Linked DNA regions of Homo sapiens: region 1 is linked to region 2. Evidence: fine-mapped expression QTL. A gene starts in region 2. The other region holds a variant in brackets. All regions are shown on one strand. Distances are between the middles of the regions. Region 1 has its middle 23 kb from the start of AGR3. Region 2 holds the start of AGR3 (anterior gradient 3, protein disulphide isomerase family member).

Evidence for each region.
Region 1: its variant is fine-mapped to the expression of AGR3 in lung (TOPMed, PIP above 0.99).

The regions. Positions count from the first base shown.
Region 1 is chr7:16,900,763-16,909,903 of GRCh38, reverse strand. No RefSeq gene overlaps it. Among named protein-coding and RNA genes, the nearest start is that of AGR3, 23 kb to the right of the region's middle. The variant G/A (reference allele first, on the strand shown) is at 4,493.
Region 2 is chr7:16,877,120-16,886,260 of GRCh38, reverse strand. AGR3 (anterior gradient 3, protein disulphide isomerase family member) reads left to right here and starts at 4,278. Exons shown (of 8, transcript NM_176813.5): 1 at 4,278-4,317; 2 at 7,616-7,751. The coding sequence starts at 7,643.

The DNA.
Region 1 (9,141 bases), 24 kb before region 2:
CAACCTAACAATGTGTCTTAAAGAACTAGAAAAGCAAGAGCAAACCAAACTCAAAATTAGTAGAACAAAAGTAATAATAAAGATCAAAGCAGAAATAAATGAAATTGAAAAAAACAACACAAAAGATCAATGAAACGAAAAGTTGGTTTTCTGAAAAGTTAAACAAAATTGACAAACATTTAGTCAGACTAAATAAGAAAAAAGAGAGGTCTAAATAGATAAAATCAGAAATGAAAAAGGAGACATTACAACTGATATCGAAGAAATTCAAAGCATCATTGGTGGTTACTATGAGCAACCAGTTGTGAAAGACAAACAATGTATGTTATCCCATATTTATATATGGGATCTAAAAATCACAACTGAACTCATGAACATAAAGAGCTGTTTATCTTAATTTTTTCTACCATGAAGACACAGGTAAATTTAGCATAGTTTGACAGATGAATAAAACCTACTATTTGATAGCACAACAGGGTGACTATAGTCAATAATAACTGTACATTTTTCAATAACTTAAAGAGTGTAATTAGATTGCTTGCAACTCAATGGCTAAATGTTTGAGGGGATGGATACTCCATTATTCATGATGTGCTTATTTCACGTTGCACACCTGTGTCAAAACATCTCATGTACCCCATAAATATATACACCTATAATTACCCACAAAAATTTAAAAAACAAATAAATAAATAGTTGAATTTTTTCTTAAAAAGAGGTAAATGCTACCACTCTGTTCTTGCATTCACCTTATCTGAGAGAGCAATTTTATTGAGAGGTGAGAAATTGGCATCTGAAATAAACTATTTTTCTTTTAAAGTCAGAATTTGCAGCACAACAGAGTGATTACAGTCAACAATAATTTATTGTACATGTAAAAATAAAAGTATAATTGGATTGTTTGTAACAATAAACAAAGGATAAATGCTTGAGATGATGGATACCCCATTTGCCCAGATGATTATTACACAATGTATGCCTGTATCAAAATATCTCATGTACCCCATAAGTATATGCACCTACTATGCACACACAAATTCTTTTTTAAAGAATTTGCATTGGTGACACCACTAATCTCTAATTCCGTTTGTTTCCAGCAGTGACTGACCTCTATTCTAAATTCCTGAAATGACAACTGGGAGTAAGACTTCATGACTATCCACTGACGATCCCTGACCAAAAATAAAAGCCTTGGGTGTCTCATGTCAATCCCTCAAATCGGCACCACTTGGTCATTTTTTTCCTCTCTTTGGATATAATCATACACACAATTACAGAAATTAGAGAATATCTAAGAAATAAATCAGAGTTAAATTAATAGCCTGTTGAGGAATGAGAGAAATTAGGAATTTATTCCTTGTTTGATTGCCTCTTTGGTCCTAGATGTTGACAGGTGGATACCAATTGTAGTCACATAAGGAAAATTGAAGCTGAAACTGAAAGAAAATAATCCTGGTGATCAATTTCTGTACAATCCACCACTCATGGCACCATCAATCCAAAATCCAAAGTGTAACATATTAAAGTGCTGCCTGTTTTGAGATGAGATTTTTTGTCCCCCAAAATAATTAGCTAGTACCAGTTTTCTACTAGCAAGAGGCAGAGATAAAGATATTCTCTATTGTCAAACTTGTTTTTCCACGTGGAATTTTGACCTAAAATTTCAGAATCACTATTTTCATCAGTCCAGATTTTACTAACTACACCTAGCACTTACAATACTTGCAAGTTGTAGTATTAACAGCAGAAGCTGCTCCTGATGTCAGTTTTAAACTTTATGAGGAACTTTATTTCTTAAATATGTGGATCTTGAACATTCTAACTACAATCTGTCAAACTATGCTAAAATTTACCCATGTCTTCATAGTAAAAGAAAAGTTAAGGTAAACAAAGTTAAGGAATGCTAAAGCTTCAGGCAACCTGCTACCACCAGCACTAGTTTATGAAGATTCAGAAAGTGGACACTCAAGACAATGTATGTTTTCAGTACTATAAGGCATTGAAGTCAAAATCTTATGTAAAACAGCCAGCTCTGGTGAGACACTGAACTGCTTTGGTAAAGACTTTTCTAAGCCTTTTTTTTTTTTTTTTTTTTTGAGTTCCTTGGTATTTATTACCAAATTTTTTTTTAATTCACTGGTTTTTCTACCTTTTTACTTTTTTATTTTCCCATAGGTTATTGGGATACAGGTGGTATTTGGTTACACAAGTTAAGTTCTTTACTGGTGATTTGTGAGATTTTCATGCAACCATCACCCGAGCAGTATACCCTGCACCCTATTTGTAGTCTTTTATCCCTCTCCCCCTCCCACCCTTCCCCCCAAGTCCCCAAAGTCCATCATTCTTATGCCTTTGCATCCTCATAACTTAGCTCCCACATATCAGTGAGAACAAATGATGTTTGGTTTCCATTCCTGAGTTACTTCACTTAGAATAACAGTCTCTAATTTCACCCAGGTTGCTGCAAATGCATAAATTCGTTCCTTTTTATGGCTGAGTAGTATCCCATCCTGTATATATACTACAGTTTCTTTATTTACTCACTGATTGATGGGCATTTGGGTTGTTTCCACAATTTTGCAATTGTGAATCGTGCTGCTATAAACATGCACATGCAAGTATCTTTTCATATAATGATTTATTTTCCTCTGGGTAGATACCCAATAGTGGGATTGCTGAATCAAACGGCAGTTCTACTTTTAGTTCTTTAAGGAATCTCCACACTGTTTTCCAAAGTGGCTGTACTAGTTTACATTCCCACCAGCAGCGTAGAAGTGTTCCCTGATCACCACATCCATGCCAACATCTACTGTTTTTTTGGTTTTTTGATTATGGCCATTCTTCCGGGAGTAAAGTGGTATCGCACTGTGGTTTTGATTTGCATTTCCCTGATCATTAGTGATGTTGAGCATTTTTTCATATATTTGTTGGCCATTTGTAACTAATGGTGTTTTTGGCCTTTAAATTTGCACCCATATCTTGACCCTTTGCATTTTTCCACTCTATCAGGAAGAATCAAGGATATATAAACTCAAGGAAAATTTCAATAAGAGAAAAACAGAGCTAAGCCAGCTACCACAATCTCCTTGATAAGGCTCTCCCAAGAAAAAAGCACCTTGGGCTGTTTTATCATGTCTGCTTCATGTAAACCCTTTGAGAGGAGTAGCCAAACAGAACACACCATGAAGAAACAGAAGCTTTTAACCTCTTTGAGCTTCACCAAAACATTCACTCCTTTAGTACAATAGCCCAGTGAAAACTTCACCCTTAACCCAAGTCAGAATTTTACTTTGCAAGGAACAAAATAAGCAAAGAGAGTTTTAAACATCTCAAAAAAAGGGATCAGAACTCAGGGAGGCCAGCAGATCACTGTAAAGGAAGGTAGAGTATAATAGCAAAAGGGTAACTCAAGCTTAGTTTTATTCTCACAATTGCATCCAGCCAGGCCAAAGAGATTTAGTAAATACATAATAAAATACCTAGGATAGCATTTTTTCCAAAATTTCAATCAGCTTGAGAAAATCATTTATATACACAAAAAAAGACTCAGAACAATATTACAAAGTAACTTTGACCTGAAGAACCACTGTAGGAAGAGATCATGCCAATAATGCTTGACCAAAAATGAAAAATGAACGAGTCTCATCATGTACCAGGGACCTTTTTGACTAAAAAATTTTAAAGATATTCTTTCCTTATATCTAAGAAAATAACCACATGTGTATATTTATGGAGAAATCTATCATAAACTAGCTGTCCAGACAATTCTTAATAAGTACTTGAAAATTTTAAACCTCAAACATATAAAGAATTACTATAAAGAGCAAAAAAATGTGGTGGGAAATATGTGTAAGATGTGTCCAGTATAGGTAGCAAGTAAGTAAGTAACCAGTAAAACATGTTAGCATAGAATAAATGAAATAAGCAAGTAGCACATATGATATTTTTACATAGATTTAAAAGGATGAGGGGAAAAAAACCCAAGAGCATTATTTAGGAATAAAGAGGAAGAGAAGGATAAGGTAAACATTAACTATGCATAAGGCACAAACCTTCACTTCTTTTCATAAAGGAGTAACTGTTACGAGATTGGACAACAAGACAAGTAGACAAATACTGAAACAACTGTTTTTCATGAATTATACAATAGGCAATATAGGAGGTAATTCCTGAGAGGATAAACAATGAAGTGAGTTCTACGATCACCCGAGCTTTTTGCCTGGAGGTAATTTCTGGACCATAGCACAAGCAAGGATAATATTAACAGAGCTGAGGGGAAAAAGATTCAAGTTCAGGGAGACCACGAGGGTTAGAAATTGTGGACCAGAGGATGGGTTAGGCATAGAAAGGGTTACATACTGAAAGAACTACAGAAATATGCATAGGGTTTTCCTTAAGTCTTTGGCTGAATGCCAATTTACAAACACATAAAGTGACATTCCAGGAGGCCAGAGAAGAACTACTGCTGGGAAAGAACAAATATCAAGAATCT[G/A]TAAACTAAACAATTCACTGAGTTCACACAGGGCTGGGAATTGTTTGAGTTTCCACCAGCCAGAGTGAAGAGACCTCATTGAACATACGAACATTCACAAGAAATCCCTTGGGTCACACCTTAATAGTGAGACTAAACTGCCCTAGAATAAAAGCTATACCAGGACCACCTTCAAAAAGCTTAAAAACATGGCCTGTAATAATCAAGACTGTCATGAAAAGATCATACACATTTTAAATAAATTTTTTTTAAATCCCTCAAAAATGTAAAAATTTAAATATTTGTCATCCAATCAAAAATTACCAAACATGTAAGGAAGCAGAAAATTTAACCACTATACAGGAAAAAATCAATCAATATAAACAGATCCAAGAAAGACAGTGATGAAAGAATTTACGAAGAATAATTCTAAACAAGCTTTTATAAATATAAATAGGATAATTTTAAGAATATAAAGAAAAACATAAGTCTAGTAAATAGGGAAATAGAATATATAAAAATAATCAAAGGAAACTGTTGGAGATAAAAAATATAATATCTGAAATAAGAATTTCATGGGGTATGATTAACAGCACATTAGACACTTCAGGAAAAATGAGAAACGACAATATATAACAACAGAAACTATGCATACTGGAGTACAGACAATTCTAAGAAATGCCAAATACAAATATATTTATATATTATATAAACATTCACAAAATGATAGAAGAGAGACAGGAAAGAAAGTGAAAAAAAAAAAGTTGAAGATATAATGGCTGAAAATGTTTCCAAATTTGGTAAAATTTTAAATTCAGTATACAAGAAACTCAATTTATCCCAAGCAGGAAGAACTCAAAGTCAATCACAGCAAGTCAAATTTCTGAAAAATAGTGATAAAAAATTATAAAAACCAGACAGAACTAAAGGAATCAATATTTTAAAAAGAATAAATCTAAGTATTGTCATAAATTTTGTGTCAGAAACGATTTAACACAAAAAACAATGTAATGATATCCTACGGTGCTGAAAGAAAAGAATGTCTATCTAGAATTCTAAATCCACTTTTAAAGAAACAGTCTTTAAAAAACAAAAGGCAAAATAAAGACATTTTTCAAAAGTGGGAGTGAAAAGAATTTATCAGCCACAAACATGCACTCAAGCAAGTAGTTAAGGGCATTCTTTTGGCAAAAGGAAAATGATCACAATGAAAACTTGGTTCTACTCAAAGGAGTGAATAAAGCTTAAAATAGTAAGTATGTAGGATTTTTTAAATCTGTTTTAATTTCTCTAAATAGTAATTGAGAGTATAAAGCAAAAATAATTCAATGTATTATGGGGTTTAAACATGTAGAAATATAATTCAACACATCTGTTCCAACCACTGATAGATCAAGTAGGCAAAATACAAATAAGGACATAGAAAATCTGAACACTATCAACCACTCTAATCTAATTAATATTTATAGACCACCTTACCCAAGAACAACAAAACATATATCTTTTTGTTATATATCTGTGATATATATCTATATGTTTATATATTTATATATATACACACCCAAAAAAGAATAAATCTAAGTATTATCATAGATTTTTTGTCAGAAATAATTCAAAACATCAAAATGAAATTAAAAATCAATAATCAAAATATACCCAAAAAATTCTCAATATTTAGAAATTAACACATTTTACCAACTAATGTGTAAAAAAGGAAAAAAAGATGAGAAATTTAGAAAATATTTTGAACTGAATCAAAATTCTTTGAAAAGGTCAAAATTTGGGGGGATGCAGCTAAAATAGTGTGTAAAGGGAAATCTGTGAATTAAATCTTTTTATTAGAAAAGAAGATGTGAAATCAGTGGCCTAAACTCCTACCTTAAGAAGTCAGAAAATGAAGAGCAAATTAAATAGAAAGGAATCAGAAATAAGGAAATAATAAAGTGTAAACCGGTAAAATATATAACTGAAAATAGAGAAAAATCAATGAAACCAAAGTTGGTTCAATAAAAAGATTAATAAAATTTATAAACTACAACATAGACTTATCTAGAAAAAAGAGAGAAACAAATTGCCAATATTAGAGAAAAAGCGACATTATGGCAGAGATTTTAAGCATAAGAAAATAACTTTATGAAAAACTATATTCCAACAAATTTGAATATATACATGACATAGTCAAATTCCTTAAAATATTCATATTACAATAACTGACCCAAGGAGAAAGAGAAAAGCTGCATAGAATATCAACTTAACTAAACTGAATTCCATAATCAGAAGTTTTTCATTCCACTTCTGCACATATGGAGTAGAAGTAGTACTTTTTTCTACTATTCCCAATAAGTGCAACTAAACAGTCAGGACATTTATATATAAAACTAGCATACGATGACTCTGAAACATGGAGAGAAGAAAGCCGACAAGTTAGAGACCTCTGGTCTTGAAAAAGATTATGCTCGTGAGTTTTGGGAATTTTTTTTATCCTCTTATATCCCAAACTTAGTGTTGAAGAAGGCAGCAAGTCAAAAACACCAGCAGGAGCTGATCAACAAGAAATTTCAACAAAAGTCAGTTAATGTAACCAAAGAGCAGGAAAGGGACAACCTAGAAATACAGAACATTTTTAGACAATATCTACTCTACTCCACCTAAGTACCGTAGAAGAAAAACCCCTACAAATTCACGCTCACTAACACAGGTCAAATAAACAATCTAGATTCCTATCATTGCCAGGCTGGAAGGAATCACCTCAACTTACCTGTCAGAGTGATGTCAAAGAAGGCCAAGGAGAAACCTGGATTTTTATATTCGTGAGGTCACAGTGAGGTCTACTCTCACAGTGTCTGTGAAGACCACACAGGGAGCCTAGACTTCCACACCCACTAGGTGATAACAAAGTACTCTTTTCATTCACCTCCGGGTTAGCGTCAGAAACCTAGTAGAAAGTCGGGACATTCACCGTCACTCAGTGTTAATGAGGTCATCTCCCCTGTGGCCTCATGGAGGCTGAATGGGGAAAAGTGGCAAAGTCCTCCTATTCTTCTCAGGCAGAGTGGTATTAGCAAGGCATAGTGGGGAATCAGTACTCCCGCCCTAGGTGCCAACTGAGGCCATTTGGGGAAACTGGAATTTCATCTTCCCCCAAAAATAAGTGGGCATTATTTCCTAATTCCCTACCCTTACAAGAGTGGAATCAGAGGAGGACAGCTAAAACAGAAAATTTATTAAGATAGTCTCATAACATAACACCAAAAATGTCCAGGTTTCAGTGAATAATCATGCATCATACTAAGACCCAGAAAAGTATCAACCTGCATGAAAATAGACAATCGATAGATGACAGAAATATTAAAATTCTCTGACAAGGATTTTTAAACAGTGATAATAAAAATCCTTTAATGAGCAATTACAAACGTGATAAAAACAAACTTTTTAAAAAAGACAGAAAAGAAAAAGTCTCAATAGATAAATAGAAGCTATTAAAAAATCAAAAGGAAATTTTAGAGCTGAAAAATACAGTAACAAAAATTAAAACTAACTAGATGGGCTCAACAGCAGAATGGAGAAAACAGAAGAAAGAATCAGTGAACTTGAAGATAGAACAAAATAAATGACCCACTCCAAACAACAAAAAGAAAATTGACTGGCAAAAAATAAACAGAGCCTCAGGGACCTGTGAGACCATAACAAAAGATCTAACATCCATGTCATTGGAATTTTGGAAGAGAAGGAAGGTAAGGCTAGAAGAATATTAAAATAAATAATGGCTAACAAATTTCCAAAAATGTAAATGACAGAAATTCACAGATTTAAGATTCTGAGTGAATCTCAAACGGAAAAAAACCCAGAGAACTCCTCCTAGAGACATATCATAATAAAAAATTCTAAATAACTAAATACAAAGAAAAAAATCTAGAGAGAAAAATTATACATTACCTAAAGGGAAAAAATACATTATCAATTAATTTGTGACAACAATTCAAATGACAGCGGATTTATCATCAGACACTATAGTGAACATTTTTCAAGAGCAGAAAGAAAAAAGTTATCAATACAAAATTCCATCCAGTGAAAATACCCTTTAAAAATTAGATGGGGAATCAAAATCAGATAAAGAGAAATTGTTGCCAGCAGACCTACCCTGAAAGAATGGCTAAAGGAAGTTCTTGAAATATAATGGAAATAATAAAAGATAGAATCTGAGAACATCAGGAAGAACAACAGAACGAGTAAGAATATAAGTAAATACAACAGACTTAACTTCTTGAGTTTTCTAAATTATGTTTCAAGGTTGAAGCAAACATTAGAACACTGAAGTAGCTCTTAATTTATATAGAGTAAATTTTTAAGATAATTGTATTATAAGAAGAGGAAGGTTAAAGGCCATAAATGGAGATTAGTGGTTGTCATGGCTTAGAGTTGAAAGAGGGAAGAGGATGGGGTGACTATAAAAGGATAGTATGAGGGAGATTTTTGTGATGATGGAATAGCCCTATATATTAACAGCATAAAAACTGCACAGAACTATATACGCATTTTGTGGCAATACCAGTTTCCTGGCGTTGTTATTGTATTGTAGTTAGGTAAGATATAATCAATAAGGAAAACTGCTGAAGACTATGCAGAACCTCTCTGGACTATCTTTGCAATTCCTTGTGAATATATAATTA
Region 2 (9,141 bases):
TCCTCTAATCTCATGGTAAGACCACATCCATATTCTCCAGCCTGTTGAACGGAGCCAAATGCCCCACACATCACTCAAGAGCCCTACCACTCTTTCCTCCCCACACCCGTTATTGTCTCCCTCCTTTCCCTGCTTCTGTTACTCTCTGGCTCTGCTTTCTTCTTCCCATTTTCTGTATCTATTCTTCATCTACTTGAGAACTATTTGGGGATCTCACTTCAGATTTACCATGGCTGCCTCCCAGCTCTGCACAATCCATTTTAATTTTATTCATGTCTTCCAAAACAGGCCCTCCCTGACCTGGGCTGAGGAAACTGGCCAGGCTGAGTCCCTGATCTCCACCATGGCAGGAAAAAATGATATGCCTGTTTAAGATATAAAAGCATTTTTATGGGAAAAAGTACAAAGTTATCACGACAAGCTACAGGTAAGAGCCTGATTGAAGGACTTGAATCTCTAATCCAAAAGCTACATGCACAATTCTACTTAATCTTACTTAGCTCACAGGGCAAATACCAAGGAATAAATCTCATTTATATTTATATTGTAAAAATACCACAGGTTTATCAAGTGTTTAGATGTAATACCCTGCAAGTTCAGAGACTTTATGCTTAATGGAAATAAAACATTATTGTTTTGCAATGGGAAGTGTAACTAATTTTGACAGAGCAAGAACCTGTAGGTTACAGACATTGATTATGAGAGGCTTATAAAAACACTATGCATTTAAATGTTTGGTATAAAATTGCACAGCTCAATAATGAATTCTGGAGGTATCTATTCCTTTAACCCAAAGAGTCTTTTTTCTCCAAACCCAATATTTTTAAAAATAACTATTTGCCTCTACAGGATTTAGAAAACAGTGATACATAAATGCTCTCTGCAAGACATTATTCTCTTTCATTTACTGAATAGTTTCACAAATACCTGTCCTAATATGGTACAATCTTCAATATTATTACATAAAAAAGAGGTTCAGAAGTATTCATTGAATGGCACCATTTGTGTTAATATACAAACATAAATAGGTAGATGTATAAACCGTTATTGCCTCAAGAAGACCCATAGACTGGGCAAGAGGAATACCTACTTTCCACTGTCAGCCTTTTAAAATGTATATATATTTTCTTAGTAAGAGACTGATAAACTGAAATACAGACAAACAGATGGACACATACACACACACACACACACACACACACACACAAAGTGAATAGGTAATCCTAATCCTATATTTAACCAATGATTTATGTGACCAATTAAACTTGTAAAAATATAGAACAATGCCCTCAAAAGAATCAACTCCAAGAGCAAAACAGCTTGATTTATTATTAAAAGAGTATATAATTAGACACACTTATATTCTGTTCCTGAATAGAATGAAACAGAGAGGCCCTACAATTTTGTAGCTTGGAAATTTAATGAAACATTTAAAATAATTATAAGGCAAGATGACTTATGTTACTTGTTTTATCTTGTAAAATTTTCTGTTGAAGAAGGTACTCTAAGCAGAGGCTAAAAGACAATATTTGAGATAATATTTCAGTAAGATTAAAATTAGAATTAAAACTGTCCTCCAGTGAACTGAACTTTCTCAAATTACTGGGTAACCCATCGGCTATAGAAAAATTATTTTCTTAATTAAAAATAGGATGTAATATGACCTACAGGAAGAGTCAATTGAAGCTGTTGACAATTCCAAATCCATTAACCGTAAGATTGATTTTGAAGATTATTGCAGGCAATTTTATGAAAAAATAAATATGAGGTCACATTGAAAAAATAAAGACAGTTAATGCCAGAAAAATACCAGCCACCTGGTATCAGATAGGTACAGTTAAGAAAATGATTAACATAATTATATACAAAGAATAATTTGTATAATTTGCCATCATGTACATGAATATACTTTAAATAATTTTACTTCTAAGAATAATCTTTCATAGAACCATTTGTGATCTATTACACAATAAAACAAATTTTGGATGACAAATATATATTTCAAAATATTATTTTAAGATGCTATAATTCCAATGACTTTATTACCTCCTTTTACTTTCAAAATTGTCCTGGGTTAGAGGACACATTGCATTATCACCCTAGTGGGAGAGACCAAAAGACACTGATCAGCTCAGACATTATAGGGTCTAGTTTCACTACCCCACAGGTACTCGACTTCCTCTTTCTCACTCTTATCTTATAATTTATTTAAATGAATATTATGTGAGAAGTTTAACAGGGATGCAGAATATTTGGAGATTTTTCCGTAACCACTCTCAGTCAACAAGAAGTTGAAAGCTTTCCCAGACTTTTCACTAACAGAGAAATATAAGGATTATTGCCCAGCCATTTCTTTGCTTTGCAAAGGCTGGCTGGATTTAAAATTAAAATTATATGTCAAGTTTCATAACCTTCAGCAAGAAGGATTCCATTTGAATAGCATGTTCCAGGGAAGGGTCCCTTTGAGAATCCTATGTAAGGAAGAAAGCACAGTTAGACAAGTACACAAATCAGCAGTACAGTTAAAGAATATACAACCTAGCTACATGAAGTTTCTTTCAGGACAATGGAAAGTTTAATTAGGAAAACAGTAAAATTTTCTATAACAAATGAGAAAATCCATATGCCCATCTTTATAGAACAAAATCCAACAGTCCTGCTTTTAAGAGATGTAGTTTAAGAATAATGGTTACCTTCTTAACATGGTCAACTCAGCCAAATCCAGCACTACATCTAAAGTTAAAATACTGGAAGCACACCCGCTTTAACATCAGGAGCAAGACAATCATCACTCCCATTCTTGCACAGTATATTTGTTAATGTATTCAGAGCAATTAGACCCTTCCCCACAAAAAAAAGAAACAAAAAAAGGGTGGGAGAAGGGAGGGATGGAGGGATGGAGGGATGGAGGAAGAGAGGAAGGGAGGAAGAGAGGAAGGGAGGAAGAGAGGAAGGGAGGAAGAGAGGAAGGGAGGGAGGGAGAGAGGAAGAAAGGAAGCAAAGGAAGAAAGGAAGGAAAGAAGGAAGGAAGGAATTTATAAACAATACCCTGGATTAAGGTTCAACAAACATTTTCTGTAAACATTTACTAAAGATAGTAAATATTTTAGGTTTTGCAGATCATACAGTCCCTGTCACAAGCACAGTTGACCCTTAAACAACATAGATTTGAATTGTGTGGGTTCACTTAGAGAAGGATTTTTTTTTAATATATTCCTTCATATGGGCAAGTTCTGTATCCACAACCAAAAGTGGATCAAAAATACTGTGTTCACGGGATGCCAAACCTGCATATGCGGAGGACCAACTTTTCATATCTGTGGGTTACGCAGGGCCAGATATGGGACTTTGAGTGTGCACAGATTTTGGTATCCACTGTCCTGGACTGTACCGGACTTTGCTGTTGCAGTGCAAAAGTAGCCATAGACACTAGTAAGCAAATGCACATGGCTGCATGCCATCCGCCACATCTCTCTCTACTTAAGGACACTGAAATTGAATTTCATATAACTTTCACATGTCACAAAATATGATTCTTTTGGGTTTTTTTCCCCAACCGTTTAAAAATGTCAAAACCGTTCCTGTTTCCTGGGCTGTACAAAAAACAGGTATGCCAAATTTGATGACACACTGCCTTACGTTATTTTAACAGTAATTAAATAATTACTCTCAATTAATTCAACAGTATCTAACTATTAGATAAATTTAAACTTATCTAATGGCCTGTTTTTCTAATTTTTTGTGCAGTAAAGGTTTTATAGAAAAATTGTAAAGAATAATCAAATTATGAAAATGTTCAACTTTAAAACAGAATTTTTATTTCCTTCTCTCTCAAAAAAAAAAGGACCCAATCTCTTTAGCTGTTAATTATATTCCTGTAAACAGAGTAACCCTTAGGAATTTCTATTTGAACAATGGCATGCACACAGTTCTTAAATTCATTCCGTTTTCTTTCTTCCTTTTCTTTTTTTTTTTTGTGCTGAACTTCAGCCAAACATTAAACTACCTTGGGAAATAAAAGGTAAAAGAGAAAGAAGCACAAAGATGGTATTTGACCTTATTTTATGAGGACATTCAATCTTAATTTAGAGAAAAAGAATAGAGCTTTTTTAGTGTGAGAAGCATGAGAACTGGAAAGAAGTACAGAGTTTTTCAGACCAGCCTATTTTTCTAAGTTTGTTTTCCGGTAACTATGCTCTTGTTTCTATGCAGGTGAGGTTGTAGGTCAGGTGTGTGTGTGTGTGTCTATAAATCCACACCCATTTTTAACCAGAAACATCCAGAATACATTTCCAACAAGAGCACTGGCCAAGTCAGGTAAGCAAGCAAATTTTCCAGATTACTTAATCAGTGGTCAAGCTTTGCTATATTTAAATAATCACCTTTTGCTATTTAAAAGTGAAGCTTTCAGTAAAGGGTAGGAAAGTGAAATGAATTTTTATTTTTCTTCTTTTACTGAACTGGATTTCCTTTGCTGGTTTCATAGTTTTATCTCTATTTATATTAATGGTATTAGAATAAATTGACGTCAACCACAAAAACGACTCTTTGAAAAGTATTCTACAAGTAATGATAGCTCTTCTTTATATTCTTTTAAGTCTTGTTTTATTTTAAAATATAGGAACTTATAATATCAGTTACTTACGTTAAATTACTTTTGAAAAATAAAATACTAATGTCATAAAATGCTAATTGACCAATGTTTATACAATCTAATTGCTGACATATGGTTATGTGCCTCCCAAATGCATTTTAAGCTGCTGTAGGCCTGTAACCATGCCACATTTATCTGTGTTCCCCCAAGTAGCTTAACCTTGCAACTGATACTAAAGGACCCTCAGCAGTTTACACTATATTTTACCAAGGAAAGCGTTATTTATTCAAAATCTACAGTGTACAAGTTGTACTGCTTTGTCACAGAATATATTTAATATCTATTTTATAATTTATCAATGTAAAACCAGAAAACCAAGATTTTTATTTTTTAATTAGAAAGTATTTGACAATAATACATAAAGACTTGAAATTTTAAAGAAAAAATGGTTCCCGCTTAACTCTAAGCTTCGCAGCTTTAAAATAGCAAAAATGATGAGGTTATGCTTTTTCTTTTTTAAAATGCAGATTCCACCTGCTTGTCTCTGTAGCTAACATAGAAAAATCTTTCTAAAGATTCCTTCCAGATTGACTTTTCTTAACTCTTCTTTATATCCAAGATCCCTGGAAGAATTTTAATGACGTTTTGGACCCTATTCCCACGGAAAAGGAACAGAGGCAGATAAAATTTTGCACACAATTTCCAGGGGTTTTGAGCCTTCTGTAGCTCAGCCACAGGCCTTCTAGAAGCCTGCTGGATCCAGGTTAAGATCCTGTCCTAGGTGGTTGCTTTAGTTCCTCCACTGCAACTCCCAACCTGTCTAACTAAGGCTGCCTTCCCTGGGTTGAGCTTTGTGTTCCAGAGTCAACTGTCCCTGTCCTGTACTAAAATCCACCCTGTATTTGTTTCAGTCTTTAAAGTACAAGATGACCAAGGCCTTAAGGTACAAGATGACATTCTGAAATGTTTTATGGTTTAATAAGTTATGAGAACTTAAACTGAAATTCTTATCAGGCACCGTGATAATTGTTTAACAGGGTTTTTATATGCCTGGAAAGAAAGGACAGGAAAGGAGGGGAAAGGAGGGGAGAGGAGGGGAAAGGAGGGGAAAGGAGGGGAGAGGAGGGGAGGGGAGGGGAGGGGAGAGGAGGGGAAAGAGGAGGGGAAAGGAGGGGAAAGGAGGGGAAAGGAGGGGAGAGGAAAGGAGTCCGGGCGATGTAGCTCACCCTTGTAATCCCAGCACTTTGGGAGGCCGAAGCAGTTGGATCATTTGAGGTCAGGAGTTTGAGATCAGCCTGGCCAACATGGTGAAACCCCATCTCTACTAAAAATACAAAAATTAGCCGGGCATGATGGTGGACACCTGTAGTCCCACGTACTTGGGAAGCTGAGGCAGGAGAATCGCTTGAACCTGGGAGGCGGAGGTTGCAGTGAGTGGAGATGGCCCCACTGCACTCCAGCCTGGGTGACAAGAGCAAAAAAAAAAAAAAAAGAAAGAAAGGAGAGAGAAAGAAAAGAAAGAAAGAGAGAGAGAAAGAGGAAGGAAGGAAGGAAGGAAAGAAGGAAGGAAGGAAGGAAGGGGAAAGAAGGAAGGGGAAGGAAGGAAGGGGAAGGGAAGGAGGGAGGGACAACTGGGGATTAGGGAGGGAAATAAAGTAAGGTTAACCTGGAGTGGTAACTATTTTCAGTCCATAGAGGGGCTGCAATAGATACACCACTGGGAAGGGGAAAACAGTATAATGGGAGGAATGAGGAAATGTCTGGAGAAATCTAGAATCTGTAAACTTCTTTACCACCAAATTGTTGTTCTCCTCCACGACTGCGGTTGCTACTTTACAATAACTAGGTGATTAAAATTGCCAAATGTTTTACCAATGCCAAAACATTGTGTCTTATATATCTTTTCATTTTCCACAATGCCTACTACAATAAAATATAGCAACATCTTTGTTTGAACAGAATCACTAAAGAATCAGTCACTAGCCATTTTGGCTAAGGAAATTTTACTATTTTGGTGATGAGTTCAATACTAAATAATGTAAGCCAATAGGAAAGACGTCTTAAAGGAACTTCAAATCAATGTGAATGATGTCTGTATATTTATTTTATATTTTGAGGTAAAGTTTCAAAACTGCATGAGTCAACCATTTTCAAATCAGTTTTATATGCTAATGCTGTAACTAAACATCTCACAAGTATTAAAGACTTCCTGTAATATATTTATCAAGTGGTTTATGACCAGATCAGGCCCAACTTTGGACTTCAGTTTTTATCTTAACGTGCAAAGTATAAAAGATGCACATTGAGTTAAGAATCAGTTTGAATTCTAGCTAACCAGGAGAGAATGTAATCATGACAGTCTATTCTTCTCTATACATATGTCTAATTTATAGTAATATGATAGTACTTGATTTTTATAAAGAGCTGTATCATAAACTGAAGGGCAAAAGTCTGAGTAATTGTTGGAAGGATGAGAAAGGTAAGAAACTATAAAGGAACTGAAGGACAAGAATCCTCCATATTCTATTTTTCCTCTGATTTCTATTTTAAGCAATATTTATTCATGTATAATCTTATCTTAGTATAGAGTTAAAATATTTTGACCTATTAGATGAAGGAGAATCAAAAGGCAAAGAATATTTCTGCATGCTAAAAGTCACTTCATAGTTTACAAGACATCAAACAACATGATCTTATTTGAGTTTCGTCTTGTTGGTGTGAACACTACAGGGCGGTTCAGAAGCAGGCTTCGTGTGCCCTGATCCAGCTCTTTTTTAATTATACAGCACCATGCCCAGGAGGCTCAGAACATGACTTCTCACCAACTGAGCATGTACTGAGTTGATTAAGTATTTTAAAAATAAAATGTGAATGAAAGTTCTATGTGGTTGGTTATACCATGTCAAACCAAAAAAGCTGAACAGTCTGTCATCACAGTATTGGTCCAACTCTTAGCAAATATCTTCTAATAATAGCTTGAAGTAATTCACTGGATTCTGAGAATTCCTTTCTGTCATCTAGCTTCTTCTGAGAGAGTCTCTAGAAGACATGATGCTACACTCAGCTTTGGGTCTCTGCCTCTTACTCGTCACAGTTTCTTCCAACCTTGCCATTGCAATAAAAAAGGAAAAGAGGCCTCCTCAGACACTCTCAAGAGGTGCTGTAATCTCATTTTATTTTCTAAACTCAGTCATTTGGATTGCTTTTTAAAATATCTGGTGTCTTCACTCATAGTCTAATTATAAAGCAAATTCAACTAACTGAATGATTTTTGTTGTGTGTGACTTCAAAATGGATTTTTTAAAACAGAAGGAATCAGTTTATTTTAGGCAGTGAATCAAATCAACTAGCAAACAATAACATAAATTTGCATTATCTTTTGCCAAAATAATGGAGAATTGGCTCGCTGTCTATAACTTTGGTAACCAGAGTCCTAGAAAATAATGATTGATTGCTGCGTCATATTGGTGTCCTAATAGCAATTTAAGATTCCTCAAAATTTGCTCAAATTCCCAGTCCTCTATTTCCCAGTCCTCCAAAAAAAAAAAAATTGGAATAATTTTATATAAGCCTTCCCAGAAAATTATACTATACCCCAAACTCTGAGAATTCGGGGTAACTAAGTCTTTGCTATATTGACTCTGGAAGACAGTGGTTTTAGACATAATCAAGGATTGCCGGTGGCTACATGTTTAGAAACATTTCTTTTTGTACTTACTGTTTTACTTGGCCCAAGAAACAAATATATATTCATCTGTAAAGAAACATTTTATTAAAAAAAATTCTCTCTTTTTTTTTTTTTTTGAGACGGAGTCTTGCTCTGTCACCCAGGCTGGAGTGTAGTGGCACGATCTTGGCTCACTGCAAGCTCTGCCTCCCGGGTTCACGCCATTCTCCTGCCTCAGCCTCCCAAGTAGCTGGGACTACAGGCGCCCGCCACCATGCCCGGCTAATTTTTTGTAGTTTTAGTAGAGACGGGGTTTCACCGTGTTAGCCAGGATGGTCTCGATCTCCTGACCTTGTGATCCGCCCGCCTCGGCCTCCCAAAGTGCTGGGATTACAGGCGTGAGCCACCGCGCCCGGCCAAGAAAATATTCTCAAAGTTAGTTTCTATATCTCTAAGTAACAGAAGTAGGAACAGAATTATTTGTCCCCATATAGCTATTCAAAATCAGCAGTATTACCACAAAGTACTTGACCATTTGTTTGCTCCATTCATATTACCACTGCAAATAGTAGTCAAGTGCCTTGGAGTAATACTGCTAGTTTTGAATAACCAAGTGGGAACAAATAATTCTGTTCCTACCTCTGATATATATATAAAATATATATAATTATAACATACAAATTATATATTATATATACTATATATTATATATAATATATATCATAGTATACATTTGTGTTATATTATAATAAATTATATATAAATATATGCTATAATTATAAATATATATTATATAATTTCAAATTCTAAAACACTGACTTGCTTCCCAAGTACATTCATTTCTTAACAGATGTATTGAGTGCCAGCCAAGTGCTCATCA